Homo sapiens: one gene and its partner. The protein of the gene in region 2 interacts with the protein of the main gene of each other region in a biochemical or structural test. Each region holds a gene or a part of one and is shown on either strand. Other genes may lie near its edges. The genes, in order: SETD1B and WDR82.

The links.
Region 1: the proteins of WDR82 (region 2) and SETD1B form a complex in vitro, tested with the Homo sapiens proteins (one study listed by BioGRID).

The regions. Positions count from the first base shown.
Region 1 is NC_000012.12:121,797,784-121,807,194, reverse strand, and holds the start of SETD1B (histone-lysine N-methyltransferase SETD1B), read right to left. Parts: upstream 3,187-9,411; 5' UTR 2,962-3,186; intron 2,822-2,961; exon of another isoform or gene 2,806-2,821; intron 2,472-2,805; 5' UTR 2,458-2,471; coding exon 2,284-2,457; intron 2,078-2,283; coding exon 1,979-2,077; intron 1,361-1,978; coding exon 1,090-1,360; intron 1-1,089. UniProt on the Homo sapiens protein: Histone methyltransferase that catalyzes methyl group transfer from S-adenosyl-L-methionine to the epsilon-amino group of 'Lys-4' of histone H3 (H3K4) via a non-processive mechanism.
Region 2 is NC_000003.12:52,260,206-52,269,271, forward strand, and holds part of WDR82 (WD repeat-containing protein 82), read right to left. Parts: intron 8,157-9,066; exon of another isoform or gene 8,073-8,156; intron 6,814-8,072; coding exon 6,747-6,813; intron 1,275-6,746; coding exon 1,175-1,274; intron 297-1,174; coding exon 180-296; intron 1-179. UniProt on the Homo sapiens protein: Regulatory component of the SET1/COMPASS complex implicated in the tethering of this complex to transcriptional start sites of active genes.

The DNA of each region.
Region 1 (9,411 bases), on a different chromosome or scaffold from region 2:
CGTGGAATAACTGCCACCACCCCCCGGCACCGGCTTAGAGCTCGGTCAATACATTTTAATCATTAAACGCAAAAAAAGAAAAGTTCTGATTTTCCTGCCTTGGGTTTGGTGTGTCCCAGTTGTCCCTGAACGCCATGCTCACAAAATTCCTGGAAGCTGCACTTTTGCCCTCCCAGGCAGGGTTTCCCAGGGGACCCCGGTGGGCTAGGGACCGAATGACATCTCCCCACAAGCTGGCTGGCCCTCAAAGCACTCGGCACCTTCTTTTATAGGTGGGAGCTTCCCTAAAGAGGCCTCAGGCACACTTTGGGGAATGCCCTCGAGTCCTCCAAGCCCCTTGGTCCTGCAGGGGCCTCCGAAGACCCACAGGGTGGGAGGTATGGCCTCCCCAGCCAGCTCCAGAGAGCACCTAGCTGATTCCAGAGCAGGGGAGGTGCTGCGGTCTCTTTAAGAGAGAGGAGGGAAGACACAGTGTCAACCCTTGAGCACCCAGAGCCGCCTGCCTGGCTCTTCCCTCTTCCCGGCTCTGCTCTTCCCCGGCGGCTCTGTCGAGAACCTTATCAATGAAACAACACTCCTGGCCCCAGATTGGCTGCCACTTCCAGAGGGGAAGGGGCAGCAAGGAGGTGGGGGGACACCCTGGATCCTTAGAGGACTCTCTTTTCAGTTTTCAGACCTTCTCTTGATGTATTTCAAGGCATCCTAGTGGCACTTCCTCAGTCCCCCACAAGTAAACAAACTCTGTCTCCTCCCCTAACACAGGCAACACTGGGGACTGTCTAAACCCAAGCCACCAGGGCTCAGAGAGGGGGCCCGCGGGGGTGTCAGCGGTGGGGAAGCCTCCGGGTGGTCCCTAGGGGTGCGGTGGCCAAGGACCGGCACATTTGGTAAATTACAGACTGTCTCCTAGCAACAGACAACACATTTAGCTCCACGCGACTCTACCCTCAGGAGGGGGCTAAGAAATAAGGTTGTGGGGGGGGATCCCAAGGAAGAGTGAGGGGGGGTCCTCCCCACGCTGCAGGAAGGGTGGGGAGGGAAAGGGTCGGGCTGACAGGTCTCCCCACGCTCCTCCCCTGCCAGGCTCACCTTTGGTGTCCAGCTCCACGTGGATAATGTTGCCCATGACGGAAGTGCTGTGCAAGTGCTGAACGGCATCCTTGGCTCCCCGGACCGTGGCAAAGACCACCTTGGCGATGCCCAGGTGCTTCTTGGTCTTGGGGTTGTACAAAATCTCCACCTCCTCCACCTCCCCATACTTCTTGCACATGTCCCTCAGGAAGTTTTCACGGATGTTATCATTCAGCTTGGCAAATGTCACCTGCTTCGGAGGCACCGGGCCCACGTAGAACTCATCGATCTGGCAGGGGCCGAGGGGGAAGGGAGTTTGAAGAACGTTTAAACCTAAGGGAAAACACAACATCCCCCCCGCCCCGCCCGCAACTCGCCCACCCGTTGAAAACAATAAAGGGTAAAAAAACTAAAAATTAAAAAAAAAAAAAAAATTTTTTTTGGAAAAAAAAAATGCACGCGGGCGGGCCCGGGAAGCGGAGGATTAAATCGTTTGGAACGTGGAAGTCCTCTGGGTTCGGAAGGAAAGGGGAAAAAGAAACAGTTTCTCTTTCCCCACCCCCCTTTCTGGCCTTCTCTTCCTGCTGCCGGGTCAGGGGCGACCCCTCAGGCTTAAGAAGTTGTCCTGTAGTGGGCTAGCGAGAGGGGAGAGTCTCGGAGCCGAGCCCCCCGCGGGGCGTGCAGGACACTGTATCTGCGCCGTGATTACAGTTTCACCCAGTGTTATTTTGTTTTCAGTAGCTGAGAGGGGACACCCTCTCGCCAGCGCTCTACCCCTCCCCGCCAAAACTTCCCTGGCCCCGGACGGCGGGAACTGGGAATCCGGCTGGGCTCGGTCAGGACTGGCGTTATTTTCGAACTCGGGGAGGTGGGGGAGGGACGGCGGGGCAGTGGGGAGGGGTCCTACCTTGAATTTGGGCACCGACAGCTCCAGCTCCTTGTTTTTGGTCCAGATCCCGACGACCCGGGGATCTTCGACAATTTCCACCGGGCGGTTGCTGGACATCTGTGGGGAGAAATTGGGGGGCCGGGATGAGAGAACTGGTCCCCCTCCCCATGGGCAGACCCCTTTCTCGAGGCACTTGTCAAACTCCAGGGCTGGGGCCCCGTCTGACAGTTGGCCGGGGGATCGGGCGGGGGGTCCCTGGCCGCTAGGCGCGTCTCCCCGGACACGACGCGGGGCACGGCTGGGGGGGCGCGCCGGCTACTCACCGCCAGGCTGAAATGCTGCCCATCGTAGCGGTACAGTTTATGATGCCCCTTTTTCAGAGCCGGGTCAATCATCAACTTGTAACTTCTCCAATGGTGGTTCCTCCTCTCGCCCGAAGGGCCGGGCTGCGGCGGGGGCTGCTGGTGGTGGTGGTGGGGGGGGTGACTGTTCTCCATGCCGTTAACCCAACCTGAAAACCAGCAAGTTGTTGTCGTCTCCGCCGCGGCGGCGGCGGCGGCCGCTTCTACACACACGCGAAAGAATCCAATCGGCAGGCCCCCACCCCCTCCCACCTTGCCAGCGCGCCCCGAAAGGAGCTGTCTCGCTGGCTCCCCCCAAAACAAGAATGGAGCGAGAGAATAACCCTTCCGGGAGAATTACGCGCCCGCCCGCTCGGCCACCGTCTCGGGGCGGCAGCGAGGGGCTCCCGGGGGTCCCCTGGGCGGGCTGGCGGGGCCCGGGGCGCCCGGAGGACGCGGACTCCGGCCCATGGTGCCCGCCCGGCCGCCCGGCGTGGCGCTCACCCGCTAGCTCGGCCCGGCTCTGGCGCGAGGCTGGCGGCAGGGCCTGGCGGCGCCGCCGCCCGCCCGCCCGCTCGCCCGCTCGGGCCAGGGCCGGGGCCGGGGGCTTGGGCCGCCCGGCTGCCGGCCGCGGCCTCTCCCTCCCCGAGCCGCGCTTACATCCCCGCCGGGCGCCGGCCTCCCTGCGCCGCCAGCCAGTACATGGTGTCCCCCGAGGGAGCCGAGGCCGGGGCGGCCGGACCGGGGGCCAGGAAGGGGGGGCGCCGCCGCCGCGGCTGCCGGGCCCGGAGCTGCTGCCGCTGCCGCCGCCGCTGCTGCTGCTGCTGCCCGGGAGGCGGCTGGCGGCGGAGGCTCGGCTCCCAGTAGCCGCACATCCCACAATACACCGCTAAGGAGCCCGACCCGAGCGCTCACCCTCCTCCTCTTCCTCCTCCTCCTCCTCTTCCTCCTCCCCTCTCCTTCCTCGCCGCTTCCCCAGGCACTCTCCCGGCGGCGGCAGCTGCGCCGCCAAAGCCCCGGGCCCCAGCGGCCCCCCACCCCTCACTCGCGCGCTCCCACACTGCCTCCCCCTCCCCGGGGGAAGGCCTTTTAATTTATTTATTTTTCTGGGACTGGGGTGGGGGTCTTGGCTGGCGGGGGAGGGGGTCTCCCCGGGCTCTACCTCCCGCGGCCGGGACTACCCTCAGAGCCGCGACCGCCGCGGCGTGCGTCCCGGGCCTGCAAAACTGTTTCCAAACTGCCCGGGCCGGAGGCGGGCGCGCGGGGCCCGGGGAGATGGCTGGGGTCTGGGGGGCCGAGGGTGTGTGTGGACGCTGGGAGCCGCGGGGGGAGGCCGGCGTCGACTCAGAGGAGTTGCAATCGAGGTATCTGCGCTCCGGCTTCCTCCTGCGGCCCGCGACCCCCTCCCCGGAGCTGAGCTGGGGAAGGGAGACCAGGGTTCACCACGTTAGCATTCGCATTCCTGGGAGGATGCAGCCCTCGCCTGGACCTGGGCGATAGACGCCTTCTTCTGTTTTTATTTTTGGAGGGGAGCGCCCTGTAATTGTCCTGAACACATGCTTCCCCCCCTTCCTCCAGCCACCCGCGGAGGAGAGAGTCCCCCTTTTTTGCATTTATCTTTTCCTTCCCCTTTCTTTATTAAAGGTCCGGGAGTGGCGGCGGCCAATCAGCGCGCGGCTTCCATTTTGTGAGTTCAACTCCGAGGCTCCCGGGCTTCGCGAGGACGCGTTTGCAGCCCCCTCTGCCGCTCCTCTCTGGCGGCCGAGGCGCAGGAGCCGCCTCGCCGGGGCTCGGAGCTGGTGTAGCTCATATTGGGGCTCTTTTCGGGGTTTGTAATTTGGCCGTGGGTAGGTAATTGGCTGGAGCAGGGCGGCAGGGCGCGGCAGCCAATCAGCGCGCGGCTTCTATAGGGCTTGAGTTATTAGACGCTGATCTCAAAACATCCTTCATCAGACACGAAGGAGAGGCCAACAGATGAGGGAAGCCATTTTTCTGCAATGGAATTAAATGGCCAAGTGGGTTTTTCCTTTGTTGCAAATGGGGAATGTTTTTCCTTTGACTCTACCATCCAGTTCAGGACGTCTCAGTGTGTTTAACATTTGTCAACAGGCCCAAGGACTCACAGTTGGAAGACTGGAGAAGACTTTTTAAAAAGATCTGGATTTTTCCTTATGACTTGGAATCCATCTTTGTCTTGTATAACTAGGTCATAGCACACCATTCATGTCAGCAGTTAACAGTTTTGAATTCCAAAAAAACCTAAGTAAATGACATATTTTTTTTCCTCTTTTTGTTCTATGGGTGGGTGGGGGGAGCTTGGAGCTGTCTTAATCTGTATTCTCTTGACTGAACAATAAATTTTTAAATATATCTAGTTTCCTCTATTAAACACTTAAACCTGGCCATCTTATTAACTCCTTCTCTCTTTTTAACAAGGTAATGTTTTAAATGTATATAGCTTTAGGACTAGCGAAATGGCAGCAACAAAAAATTGTGAGCAGTTGTTACTCTTTTAGTTTTTAAAAAACCTTTTACATTGTAAGTACCCAATCCATTCTGTCCTGACGCAGTACAGTTTTGATGTTAATGTTGCTGAGATGTCCTTAATTTTCCGAACCTTCATCTGCATGTATGTCTTTGTCTCTCTTGTCTAATATAAGCCAGTTAAGATGCTTGAGACGATCTTGCTTTATAAAGCTAAGGTTCTAGCTTTATGCTTTTGAAAATGTTTACAGCACTAAATGCTAGTCAGCTTTCTTCCCCGTAGCTTGTACACTTTCTTTGAAAATCGATCTATTTGAAGAAAAACAGCCCTGTTTTTCTCGTCTTTGGTGTTGGGGGTTGGGGGGAGCTGGTGGGTGAGGGAAAGGAAGACCTTTTCTTTGTGTAGAGAGACTAAAGCCGTCACAGGAAACTAGATTAAAACTGGAAAACAAGTCCTAGCTGGTTCCAGCAAACACCAACGTTAAGTGGGGGGTATTTTCTATGGTGGTTGGGCGGCTGGTGCGTCTTGTGCCTTTTGTTTGATTTGACTGTATTTTCGCCTTTTGTCTCTTAATGACGATCACACCATTGCTATATCCAGAGCAGTAAACAGTCCTCAGCGAAGCCGCCTTTTTGCCTACCCAACCCTGGAAAGTTTGCAGAAGTGGAAGGAGCAGAACGTGAGGGTGTAACTTACAAAAAGGTAATAAGAACAAAGACACCACCATAACCCCCAAATTTCCCAACTAAATCAAAAAATATATATGTTTTTACAATAACGTCTCCAAAACCACCGCCCAGCTTGATCTTCTAGACTCCATGGCACCGGGCTGAGCGGGTAAGTAAGAAAGATAAAAAGTGCCTTTTGCCCCTTCGAGGAAACCCTTTTGCAGGCCAAGCAAGGGCTGCAAGTGTTTGGGAGCTGAGAGGAGAAGGAGGATTCTGGAGCATTGTATTTGGCAGCCGGAGCGGGCAGTGGGCGGGGGGTTGGGACACGAAGGGCTCTTCGGACCCCTGTGCCTCTTCTGCCCCAAGGGCGAGAAGACGGGCTTCGCAGCGACCCTCGGGGGTCCATGGAGCCGCCTGCCTTCGCCCCCTCGCTCTTCCCAGGTCTGAACCTGGATGGGGAGAAGAAATTGAAGTGCTTTGGAGACGGGGGGGCTTAAAACACTAGGGAGCCTCATCGCCCAGCCTTGGGCCCACTTTCCTTTCGATCGTGAGGATTCCGCACCCCGAAGCCGGCTTCTCGGGGCTCCGGGGCGCGCCTGCGCTGGCAACGCGAAGGAGGACAAAAGGCCGGCGTCCATGTTGGCACCATGACGCAGCATCTCCGCCCGCAGCCCGGAGCTGCTGTCCTCCCGGCCGCGCTCGCTCCTCCTCCCAAACACCAGTTTTCTTTACAGGCTTCGAGCCCGTCGCGGCTGGGCCGGGCTGGTCTGGCAGGCGGGCCCAGCCGGGCAGGGCTGCTTTGCTAATGGCGGCGGCTCTCTTTCCTTCCTTCCTCCTTTCCTCCGTCCCCCCGGTCGTGGGGAGCCCGGAGCAGGAGGCGGGCCCGCGGCCAGGTCGGGCCCCGAGAGCCCGCGGGGCGCAGCGCTGGCGACCGGGTGTCGGGGGCCGTTTCGGGGGCCGTGGGCCTCGGGGGCGTCGCGCGCCGCGCCTCCCGCGCTCGCCTCAGCCGGGCGCGGCGGCCTGATGGGCGCCATTTCGCGCGCTGCCCGTGGCTGGGGCGGTGGCGGCCGCCGCGCGCCGGGCGGGAGGAGCGGCAGGGGTAGGGGGCTGGGCGACCCGGCGGCCCACGCGGGCACCAGGAGGCCTCGCCCCGGACCGCTTCCCTCTTTCGTCTTTGTCCTGCGCGGGCGCCCGCAGCCGAGGGCCACGGGGTCGGCGGGGCTTCGAGGCCGCCCCGGGTCCCACCGGCTCCTCCGGAAGCCGCGGACCGGCCTGGCCCTGACCCCAGGCCGCCCCCCGCTGCCCACCCAGCTCTGGGCGCCCAGGTCCGACCTCCCAGTCGCCCTCTGAGAGCCGAGTCAGCGCGGGGCGGGGGGTCGCCCCCTTTGTCCTCACTCAGGGCGGGAGGCCCTCGGGGTGGCCGCAGACGCCCCGTTGGGCAGCCCTCCAGCCCAGCTCTCCAGGCAGGAGGTGGGGGAAGCCTGGGAAAGCGGAGGGGGGGCCCCGGGATCCCCCGAGGCGCGGGGCTCCCGGCGAAGCCTCAGATCTCCGGCCCTTCCCGGGGAGGGTGCGGGCGGGGCGGGCCTTTGGAAATGCAGATGAGCCGCCGCCCGGGCCGGGGTTGAACCTTCTGACTCAGCCACCCCCGGCCGCCCGGGCCGCTGGGGGAGGGGCGGCGTCTGGGGTGCTCCCTTTCAGCCCCGGAGCCCGTCTGCTGTGTATTCGGCCGGTCACATCTCTCTCCCCCAACGCCCTGATCCGCCCTCCACCTTCCTCTCCTCCAGGTTCTGGGCCGGAGAAGGGGCGACGTTCGGGCACCCCCCGAATGGACAATCTTTCCTTCTGTCAACGGCAGGGGCAGGCCTAGTTTGACTCTGACAGTCCTCCCACTAAGGTAGGTGTGAGTACTTGCCCAGACCGTGAGGGAGATTTGGGGGGCTCTGGCCTGCAGCCCAGGGAGGGCCGAACCCCAAACACGCCGGGCTGGTTCTGCGGCCCCGCCCCACCCCACCCCCCCCCCCCCAGCTGCGAGCGCGTAGGGCCGCCTGCTGGGCCGCCGGGGCCATCCATCCCCGTCTGTCAGCTTCTGTTGTCAGGCATTTGGGGCGTGTAAGTCTCTGCCGAATATAGCAGCATACGAGAGGATCCACTTGCAAGTATTTCCCAGTTGTGTGTTCTTCGGCGGGGGGAGGGCCCTGGGTGCCGCCTACTTCTGAAAGACACAGGTCACTGTCAGAAAGCCCAACTGTGCTGTGGCCTTCCCTCCAGCCGCCCCCGTGGGGCATGTGGGGTGACAGTGTGAGCCGTCCTCTGATGTCTGGCTGCTAGAGAGGCAAAGAACAGAGACCCGAGGTTCCGGCCACCTTTCTCTATGAAAGGGCCTTCCTTGACGCTTCTCCACCTTCCTGGGATTGTTTTCTTCTCCAGTCCCCGAATGGGCAGGCCTGTATATAAGCCTTGTTTCTAGAACCAGACAAAGCTGGATTTGAAACCTGGCGAGCCATTGAACAGCTATGGCCTTGCGTAAGCGGTATAGCCTCCAAGCCTATTTCTCCATCTCCGAAAACAGGGCTAGATCAGTGGTTCTTAGTCTGGAACCGGCATCAGAATCACACCGGAAGGGGGGCTCACTGAAAATGGACCACCGGGCCTGGTGCCCAAGTGTCTGATTCAGTGGGTTGGTCCTTAGGACTGGCATTTCTAACAAGTTCCCAGGTGAGGTGAGGCTGATGCTGTGGTCTGGGAACACATTTTGAGACTCCAGCCCCTAGCCTGGTAACACCTGGGGTTTTGACGCAGAAGTGCCACGTTCCACGCTTGGCACATAGTAATTGATTTCATTCTAACGCTAGCCGACTTCATGTATTGAATAGTTTCCCATCTCAGTGTCTAAGAAGCTCCACAGCTGGAGATGGCGGCCCTTGGTCTCGGAGCCCCCCTCCTTGTGATTTCTGCTTTGTGATTGCTTTGATGAACCATTTGGGTCCAGGTGCTCCTGATCACACCACCTCCCCTATTTGGGACTTGTGCCCCACTCCCGCTGTGAGGGCTACACCGAGCTCTGGGGGCCTGTTCGGATTAACAAGGAGATCTTGCTAAAGGTATCTTGGTGCTAAGTTAAGGGAGATAGTTCGCCATGGGCTAGGATCTCTCAGTGCTGGTGACCTTGGGTGAGTGTCTCCCTGTAAAGTGATAAGGATGCCTGCTGGAAAGGGTGGTGGGAGGATTAAGTGCGTTAAAGAGGCCCTCCTCCCAAGCTTTTAGTTGGCCTCCATTGTGATCGTGGTTATTGCTGGGAGTGGCTGCAGGGGGTGGGGGCTGGGCTGCCTCAGAGCTTCCCCCCGCACCAGCCCACCTGCTGAAGCACGTGTCCCTGCCTCAGGGCAAAGGGGAATCTGGCGCTCCCTGGGAAGGCGGCCAACGCGGTTCTCCTCTGGAGTGGTTGAGTCCAGCTGCAGGCCTTTCCCCATCCACAGGGGCTGTTCCATGATGGGGTCAAGATTTGGGTCACCCACCCATGGTCCGGGGAGAAGTGACTCCCCAAGGTCACAAGGCCACCACCAATAGAGCCAGGATGGGGTTCCAGGTGGCTTGACTTGGCAGCCAGCGCCTGTGCCCATGGCACCCCCTCACCCCAGCTGTCTGGGTTATTTTGGGCTTCCTCCCGTGCCAGCTGTCTGCTGGCATCCCTGCCCGGGACTGTCTGGTTGGAAGTAACTGGCGTGGTGCTGTTGGCTCCTCCTGTGAGGGCCAGGGCTGGGTCTTCAATCCCCGATGAGCCGTGCTGGGTCCAGCTCCTTTGCTGGGAGGGAAGAGTGTTCCTGCCCAGACTCCCCGCTGCCCAAGTACAGCAAGAGGGCGAAAGCACCTGATAAAAATTGAGGTTCACATTGTTAATATCCCAAAAGCCTCCTCCTTCTATACTCCCTGAAACCTGTTTTAAATTTGGCTCTGCCA
Region 2 (9,066 bases):
GTAATCCCAGCTACTTGGGAGGCTGAGGCAGGAGAATCACTTGAACCTGGGAGGCAGAGGTTGCAGTGAGCTGAGATTACACCACTGCACTCCAGCCTGGGCAATAAGAGCAAAACTCTGTCTCAAAAACAAAACAAAACAAAAAACAGCTCAAAGATCTCAAAGATTCAAAGATTTACCTTATCAAAAGAACGAAGGTCATAAAGCTTGACCATTTCAGAGTTGACACCTGCAGCGAAAATTAACCCTTCTGGATCAAAAGAACAAACTGGCTTCCCCTGCAGATGCATGAGGCCCTAAGAGAAAAGAAATAAGAAATACACTAAAACACACATGCCACAACCATACGTGGAATAACCAAAGACTGCTGGTACAATGGGGAAAAAAAAATGAATCCAGGACCTTACCACTATATAATTTACTTTTCCCAATTAAAACTAAGAAAGGCATACAAACAAATATCAGCCTACCTACAGAACACACACAAAAAAAACATAAAACTAAAATGAAGCTTTTAAAAAACAGGTCTCCAGACAACAATTTCTGATCAACTCTAACTGCACAATATTACAGACACAGAATTCAAATAAAAATAAATCCCTTGAAGCTAAAAGCTCTAGGAACACTTTTAAAAACATTAAGCCAGCTGGGCGCAGTGGCTCACGCCTATAATCCCAGAACTTTGGGAGGCCAAGGTAGGAGGATCACCTGAGGTCAGGAGACTAGCCTGACCAACATGGAGAAACCCCGTCTCTACTAAAAATACAAAATTAGCCAGACATGGTGGTGCATGACTGTAATCCCAGCTACTTGGGAGGCTGAGGCAGAAGAATCGCTTGAACCCTGGAGGTGGAGGTTGCGGTGAGCTGAGATTGCACCATTGCACTCCAGCCTGGGCAACAAGAGCGAAACCCTGTCTCAAAACAAAAACAAAAACAAAACAAAACAACAAAAAACCCACAACAATTAAGCCACAGAGTACAATGCAATCTGCACTAGATTAGGGTATGTGCTTAGCAGCTACCAACTAAAAAAACAGATTTTCTCCAAAGTTTAAAAAGACCCTGTGATCCCAGAATGGAACCACTGTTTTCTCCCTTCTTTGAGAGGTAGAGTTCATTACAGTGCCTACCAAAGAAAATGCTCAAAAAGTATAACTGTGAGGTACCATTACCTGGCAGTTAGGAGACCGGAGATCCCAGAGTCGAATGGTCTTATCAAGAGACCCAGAAATGAAAGTGTCATCCACAGGTGACATGGACAAGGCCACCACCCTGCAATACATCGAGATAAATAGGAGTTGATGCGAAATATTAGCAAAAATTGGATGTGAATTCTAAACCACTCTGCCTATCTATACATATATATACCTGTTCTCCCAAAATTGCCATTTTAAGAAACACAATAAAACACACATACCACAACCATATCTGGAACAAACAAAGGCAACTAGTATAAAAAAAAAAATTTAAAGCTACAAAATAAAAATATATGATTCCAATGCAAATCAAAACCACAATGAAATACTACTCCACACCCTCTAGCATAGCTATAATAAGAGAGATAACAAGTGTTGGTGAGGATGCAGAGAAATTGGAACCCTCATACATTGCTAATGGAAATGTAAAAATGGTACAGTTGCTTTGGAAAAGTTTTTCCAAAAAAAGTTACCACGTGACCCAGAAACTCCACTCCTAGGTATTTACCCAAGATAACTGAAAATATATGTCCACACAAAAATGTACACATATGTTCAGATCTGCACTATTCATAACAGCCAAAAAGTAGAAATAACCCAAATGGTCCATTAACTAATGGATGGACAAACAAAATGTGCTGTATCTATACACTGGAACATTATTTGGCAATAAAAAGTAATAAAGTACTGCCTCATGTGACAACATGGAGGAACCTTGGGAACACCATGCTAAGTAAAAGAAGCCAGGCACAAAAGATCAGATATGAACTGATCCATTTACACAAAATGTCTAGAATAGGCAAATCTATAAAGACAGAAGTAGATCAGCAGTTGGTAGGGGCTGAGGGAGTGATTACTAATGGGTACAGAGTTTCTCTTTGGAGTGATAAAAATGTTCTGAAGTTAGATGATGGTGATAGTTGTCCAACTTTGCAAATATAGTAAAAACCACTGAACTGTACATTTTTAAAGGAATCATTTACAGTATGTAGACTGTATCTCAATTAAAAAAACACAAAAAAGCATGATTCCTTATCAAGATGTGTGAGGACTACACAGATATTCTCAAACCTAAGTGGCATCAGCATCACCTGGAGGGTGGGTTAAAACAGACTGCTAGGATCTGCTCCCAGAGCCTCTAATCCAGTAGGCCTGACTTGGGGTCTGTGAATCTGAGTTTCTAACTAGCCCCCAGGTGATGGGTGAGGCTGCTGTTTTGGGCACCACACCTAGAGAACCACAAGCCTATGCTAACAGCAACTGTATTCCTTTTTTGGTTCCCTTTTGTGGTTATACCATCAAGAGACACTCACTGAAAAACATTTTCTTCCAATGTAACTCAACTAACATCTGCACCAGCTCCTCAAGTTAAAATTTTAAAAGGTATTGTTAAAAGCCAAAATTTCCTGAGAATGCTGAGGAGGTAATAAAACACAATGAGCAGGCCAGGTGCGGTGGCTCATGCCTGTAATCCCAGCACTTTGGGAGGCCCAGGTGGGCGATCACCTGAGGTCAGGAGTTTGAGACCAGCTTGGCCAACATGGTGAAATCCCACCACTAATAAAAATACAAAAATTAGCCAGGCCTGGTGGCGTACACCTGTAATCCCAGCTACTCAAGAGGCTGAGGCGGAAGAATCGCTTGAACCCCAGAGATGGAGGCTGCAGTGAGCCAAGATCACACCACTGCATTCCAGCCTGGGAAACAGAGCAAGGCACCGTCTCAAAAAACAAAAATCAGAATGAGCAGAACACGTTGTGGACATGTAATTTTATGCCATGGCATTCAGCCCAAGAGCTCAGCACAAGACTCTATGCTGAGAAGTACAGGGAACACATGGAGAAGTAAGACCCCGACCGTAAGGAATTTTAACTGTCCAGTCCACATGACTCCAAGAGGACCAGAGAAGGCTTCTGGAAAGATACAACATCTGAGGTAGAAAGGATTTCAAAGAAGTAGCCCAGAGTTCACCTTAATGGGAATGGTGGGAGAAAATGCTGAGAAAATGGGTCAGAGCCAGAAGGGACAGAACCTGACTACAAGGGGAAGGAGCAATGAAAATATAGAGAACCATTAAGAGAGATTGTGAAGCAATCAAACTGCAATCCAGGAAGCTGAAACAGGATGGTAAGAGATGGGAAGATTAATTAGGAGCTAACAATAATTTACCTCACAGGGCATGAGCCAGGGCAGAAGCAAAGGAGAGAACACAGAGGAAAGTGACACATGAGGTTAAACCTAGGGAGAACTAAATAGTTTAACAACTCACTGAATATGATGGCAGGGGAAAAAGAGTGAACTAACAACAGATGCTTTGAGCCAGAATTGGAAGAGACAGAGATGAATAAATATGAGGAAGACAGAGAGAAGCTGGCCCAAAAAAGGTAACAATGATGGACAGAGTACTGGACCTGAGTATTAGAAAGAGTATTGGACAGAAGAGACAGCTACAAAGATGTGTATAAAACATGTAGGTGGTGCTGGGTGCAGTGGCTCATGCCTGTAATCCCAGCACTTTGGGAGGCTGAGGCGGATGGATCACCTGAGGTCAGGAGTTTGACAGCGGCCTGGCCAACATGGTGAAACCCTGTCTCTATAAAAACACAAAAATTAGCCGGGCATGATGGTGCGTGCCTGTAATCCCAGCTATTCGGGAGGCTGAGGCAGGAGAATCGTTTGAACTCAGGAGGTGGAGGTTGCAGTGAGCCAAGATCATGCCATTGCACTCCAGCCTGGGTGACCCGGTGAGCCTCCATCTCAAAAAACAAAAAAACAAACAAAACCTGTAGGTGGAAGGCGGGTCTGAAACTGATAATAGACATGAGCTAAAAATACTGATTTGGGAAGCCACCTGAATGGAGGTAAATGAAATCAGCGATGGAGATAAGAAAGCGGATAAAATATTTGTTTATTTTAGAGTCAAAACAGAGGCTGAAAACTACAAGAACAGAACCGACATGGGAAAAGTCACCTGCCACGGGAAAGTAAGTTTTACTGAGAGGTTAAGCACCAAGAAAAGCCCAAACCAGTGGCTTTTTAACTAGAGGCAGCAGGGAATGAAGGATAAAGGTTTGGATAAAGCCCCATAGACGATTCTGGGACTAGTGCAAAAATGATTTCAACAGTGAACATGTGTGAGGAGGTGGAGATGGGAATGTACAGATTCTTCTTTCAAGTTTGATAGTGAAAAGGAGTGGGTGATAGGGTCAATAAGTAGATTTAAGATAAGAAAGACCAAGTAAATTTGTAGGCAACAAAGGAAAGGCCAATTAAGGAGATGGAAGCAAGCAGAAAGAGGAAGGTCTGTTTTGTGAAAGAAAGACAACAGCTTTCTCAAGGAAAGGATTCCAAGGAAGACAGAATTTAGGTGGAAGGGATAGATGTTTAAAAGAACTCTTTTTTTTGGAGACACGGTCTTGCTTTGTCACCCAGGCTGGAGTACAGTGGCACAATCATGGCTCACTGCAGCCTCAACCTCCCAGACTCAAGCGATCCTCTCACCTCAGCCTCCCAAAGTGCTGATAACAGGCCTTAACCACCACACCCAGCTGAAATAACTCATTTTGTATAGCCTTGATTTTCTCATAAAAGGAGGGACAAAGTCATCTATCAAGAATCAGGAGGTCGGCCAGCCGGGTGCGGTGGCTCACGTCTGTAATCCCAGCACTTTGGGAGGCTGAGGCGGGCGGATCAGGGACCATCCTGGGTAACACGGTAAAACCCCATCTCTACTAAAAATACAAAAAACTAGCGGGGCTTGGTGGCGGGTGCCTGTGGTCCCAGCTACTCAGGAGGCTGAGGCAGGAGAATGGCGTGAACCCAAGAGGCGGAGCCTGCAGTGAGCCAACATTGCACCACTGCACTCCAGCCTGGGCGACAGAGCGAGACTCTGTCTCAAAAAAAAAAAAAAAAAAAAAAAAAAAAAAAAAAAAGAATCAGGAGGTCAAGAGGTTGAATAATTGGGAAGACTGGAAAGCACGTCAAACAACTGCATCAACTCTTAATTACAAATAGTACATTTGTGAACATTAATTTGAATAAAAACAAGCAAAACATCTACTTATCATGAGCCATCCTTTGTCTGAAACCAGTTACCACTGGTTGCCACCTTATTTCACCTTTATTTCAGCAACACAAATGGCCTGCCCAACTGGAAGTGCAACTTTTTTTTTTTTTTTTTTTTTTTGAGACAGGGTCTTGCTCTGTCACCCAGGCTGGATGGAGTGCAGTGGCGCCACCTTGGCTCAATGCAGCCTCTGTCTCGCGGGTTCAAGCAATTCTCGTGCCTGAGCCTCCGAAGTAGTAGGAATTACAGGCGCACACCACCACTCCTGGCTAATTTTTGTATTTTTTGTAGAGACAGGGTTTCACCATGTTGCCTAGCCTGGTTTTGAACTCCTGCACTCAAGCAATCTGTCCTCCTCAGCCTTCCAAAGAGCTGGGATTACAGGCATTAAGCCACCACGCCTGGCCTGGAAGTGCAATTTCTAACAGGAGGCTCTCAGGCCATCTCCTGTCAGGGCTCCATACCAATCGAAACCATCCTGGGTTACTGTACATTTGCAAATGGATGCAGGAAAAAATACCCCAAGTGATTAAAATATTATCCAGGGGAAAACGTGTTTAACATTCAAAGAAAAGTTGAAAAATTAGAGAAAAAAGTAACTAGGGGCATTGGGGTGAAGAACAGAGAGAAGCAACCTGCATTACAATACAGAAAAAGGAGATAAACTTCTTGATTTTAAAAAAAGGACTTTCTTTTGCATTCTCATTAAGATCTTTAAATGGAACATTTTTACATAGGGGCCCACTGAAATGGGGGCCACATATATTGGAAGGCCTCATAAACACAAACAGTCCTTTATTAAGGGATATGTGAGATTTGGTATTCCTAAATGCCAAATCTAATTTTTACTACATAAGTTTTCACTGAATATCTTTAATCCACATTTTTTCTAGTTTTATATGTATATATAAAACTAGAAATATATATATCTAACTAGAAATAGATATACCTATAACTAGAAAAAATATATATACATATATATCTTTGAGACGGAGTCTCACTCTGTCGCCCAAGCTGGAGTGCAGTGGCGCGATCTCGGCTCATTGCAACCTCTGCCTCCTGGGTTCAAGCGATTCTCCTGCCTCAGCCTCCCGAGTAGCTGGGATTGCAGGTGTCCACCACCATACCTGGCTAATTTTTGTATTTTTAGTAGAGATGGGGTTTTGACACGTTGGCCTGGCTGGTTTCAAACTCCCGGCCTCAAGTGATCCGCCCGCCGCGGCCTCCCAAAGTGCTGGGATTACAGGTGTGAGCCACTGCACTGGGCCTAGTTATATTTTAACTGAGGTATCTCTGAACACCTACCTCTGCACCTCTATAACCTCAGTAAATCAAGAGTTGACTATTTAAGAGAAGATGAAGAATGCCAAGCAGTAGTGAGGAAGTAGCTTCAGTTCACTAATAAGCTCTCTCTAGCCTTCTATTCTCTGGGTAACCTCAGGGATAAAAGAACTATCTGCTTCTATAATACGTGGGTCTTACCTTTTGCTATGTCCAGGAAAGTATCTGATGTATTTGTTGTCATGCAAGGACAAGTAACGAATAGTATCTGTAAAAAGACAAACAAGGTATGATGATATCATACTATTTAAAAGAAATTTACTTTACATTTTCATCTTAAAAAGACAAGGTCAAATAATCCATTGTATTCTATATCCCAAGCAAGGCATGAATAAATAATGGTGAATAATTCTACTCTGCAGCTGAAGAGTGGGTATGTAGATTTCACCTAACTCAAAAGCAGAGTTCTTAAGTTGACAGCATAGAAAGCAATGTTTGAAATGACCTTTTATTACCAATTTGGTTTCTTCATAATTACAATGCAACTCCCACCCTGCAAATATACCCTGGTCAAAAAACAAAAACAAGTAAAGCACACATAATAATTTTAGATACTGGTCTAGTGTCCACAGAATGGCAAACCTTAAAGAAAAATATGTGGCTGTTGAGCTAACAGACTTAAAGAGGTGAGCAGCCATGGCAGTTAAACTGAAGATCAGGTTGAACCCTGGCAGCAATTTTTGTCTAGAGTTCTCCATCAGTATGTTGACCCACCCTCAACTCATTTGAACATTCTTCAATTGGACACACAAATTACAATGAAAATAAACAAAACGTCAGAGAAGTGATGTCAAGATCTGGGTTAAAAAGATCTTAAGACATTAAAAAAATCAAATTCTTATACCAATGAGTAATAGCAGTGAGATTTTGACAATATTAAAGAAAGGAACAATCAGAGATTTGTGCTTGTGGAAAAATAAGACACTCTTAACCAAATGATTCTATCTGAAAGAGTAAACAAACAAAAAACATGGTGGCGGTAGAGAAATGAAGTGCCATAAAGAATAAAACTGCAAAATAGAAAAGTATTATCCCCTTAAAAAGACTAGGAATAAGGAAAAATTGTTGAGAAACAGCTAAGGGAAAATGGTACCAAAATGCAGAAAGAAAACCATAGAAAGAACATTCTGAAGGCAAACAGAACATAGGAATAAAGGGGTTGAAAGCATCGAGTCATCCCAGGGGTTCACAGGGGTGCTTTCTAATAAGAGGGCATTTAACTTGGGAGGGGGAATAGGGGAATAGGGATATTTGTATATTCCATAACTTGAACACTACACAATTTTCCTTGAAAACATCTTCAAACTTCTTGAATGACAACTACGAAGTATTTCTAGTTATTCTACTGCTAACAATGACTCACCTGCCCTAAGAAGAAAAAGACTTCCTCCCCATTACCTGGTTTCCCAGAGATGAGCAGGGTGACGCCATCCTCTCAGCCCCACTTGGCAGCTGGCGCGCTGTTCCTGGCAAGGCAGTGGCCTGTACAGTTATCTCCTGTACCGGGTGGTATCATAGACCCTCAAACTGTACAAACTACTACCTCAGCCTGGAATCAGGCAAAAGGAAACGGAGCGCTGGAGGAACTCTTCAGGATGCACTTGAGACAGGAAAGGGAACATCCTCACAGCAGAGGCTTGGCAGCAAAGCTACAAGTGCCACACATTTGCCTCATCTTGCACCACATTTGGAGAATCCTCATTTAATCACTCAGAAAAACATCCCAACAGAAGAAATAAACCAGTCATTCGGATGATCACATAGACATGTTTCCTCAGGATCCTAAGGTTTTACATTCTTTTCCAAAATCATTAACTACACTGCTTCCTTAGAAAACCACTTCTGAAATACAGGCATGAAAAGTAGAAATGACATACTTAACTAAAAATCAATACAGGCAGAAGAGTCTCATTAAAAAAAAAAAAAAATGGAAAAAAGGACTTCCGCCCATTCTGCTCTGAGATAGGCACAGCCAAAATAGCAGTATAAGCTATCCTTGTGGAATGACATTAGAAAAATCTTTTTTGTTTTTTTGAGATGGAGCCTCGCTCTGTCACCCAGGTTGGAGTGCAGTGGTGTGATCACCCTAGACCTCCAGGGCTCAAGCAATCCTCCCACCTCAGCCTTACAAGTGGCTGGGACTACAGGCGCGTCCCATCACACCTGGCTAATTTTTGTATTTTTTGTAGAGACGGGGTTTTCCCAAGTTGCCCAGGCTAATCTCGAACTTCTGTGCTCAAGTGATCCACTCTCCTAGGCCTCCCTAAGTGCTGGGATTACAGGCATGAGCCACTATGTAGCCACCGGCCTAAAAAAAACCTTACTGCAAAATGTGAGATGATCATCAATAATCCACTGAAATAAGTTTAAAAACAGAATCCTGGCCGGGCGTGGTGGTTCACACCTGTAATCCCAGCACTTTGGGAGGATGAGGCAGGCAGATCACTTGAGGTCAGGAGTT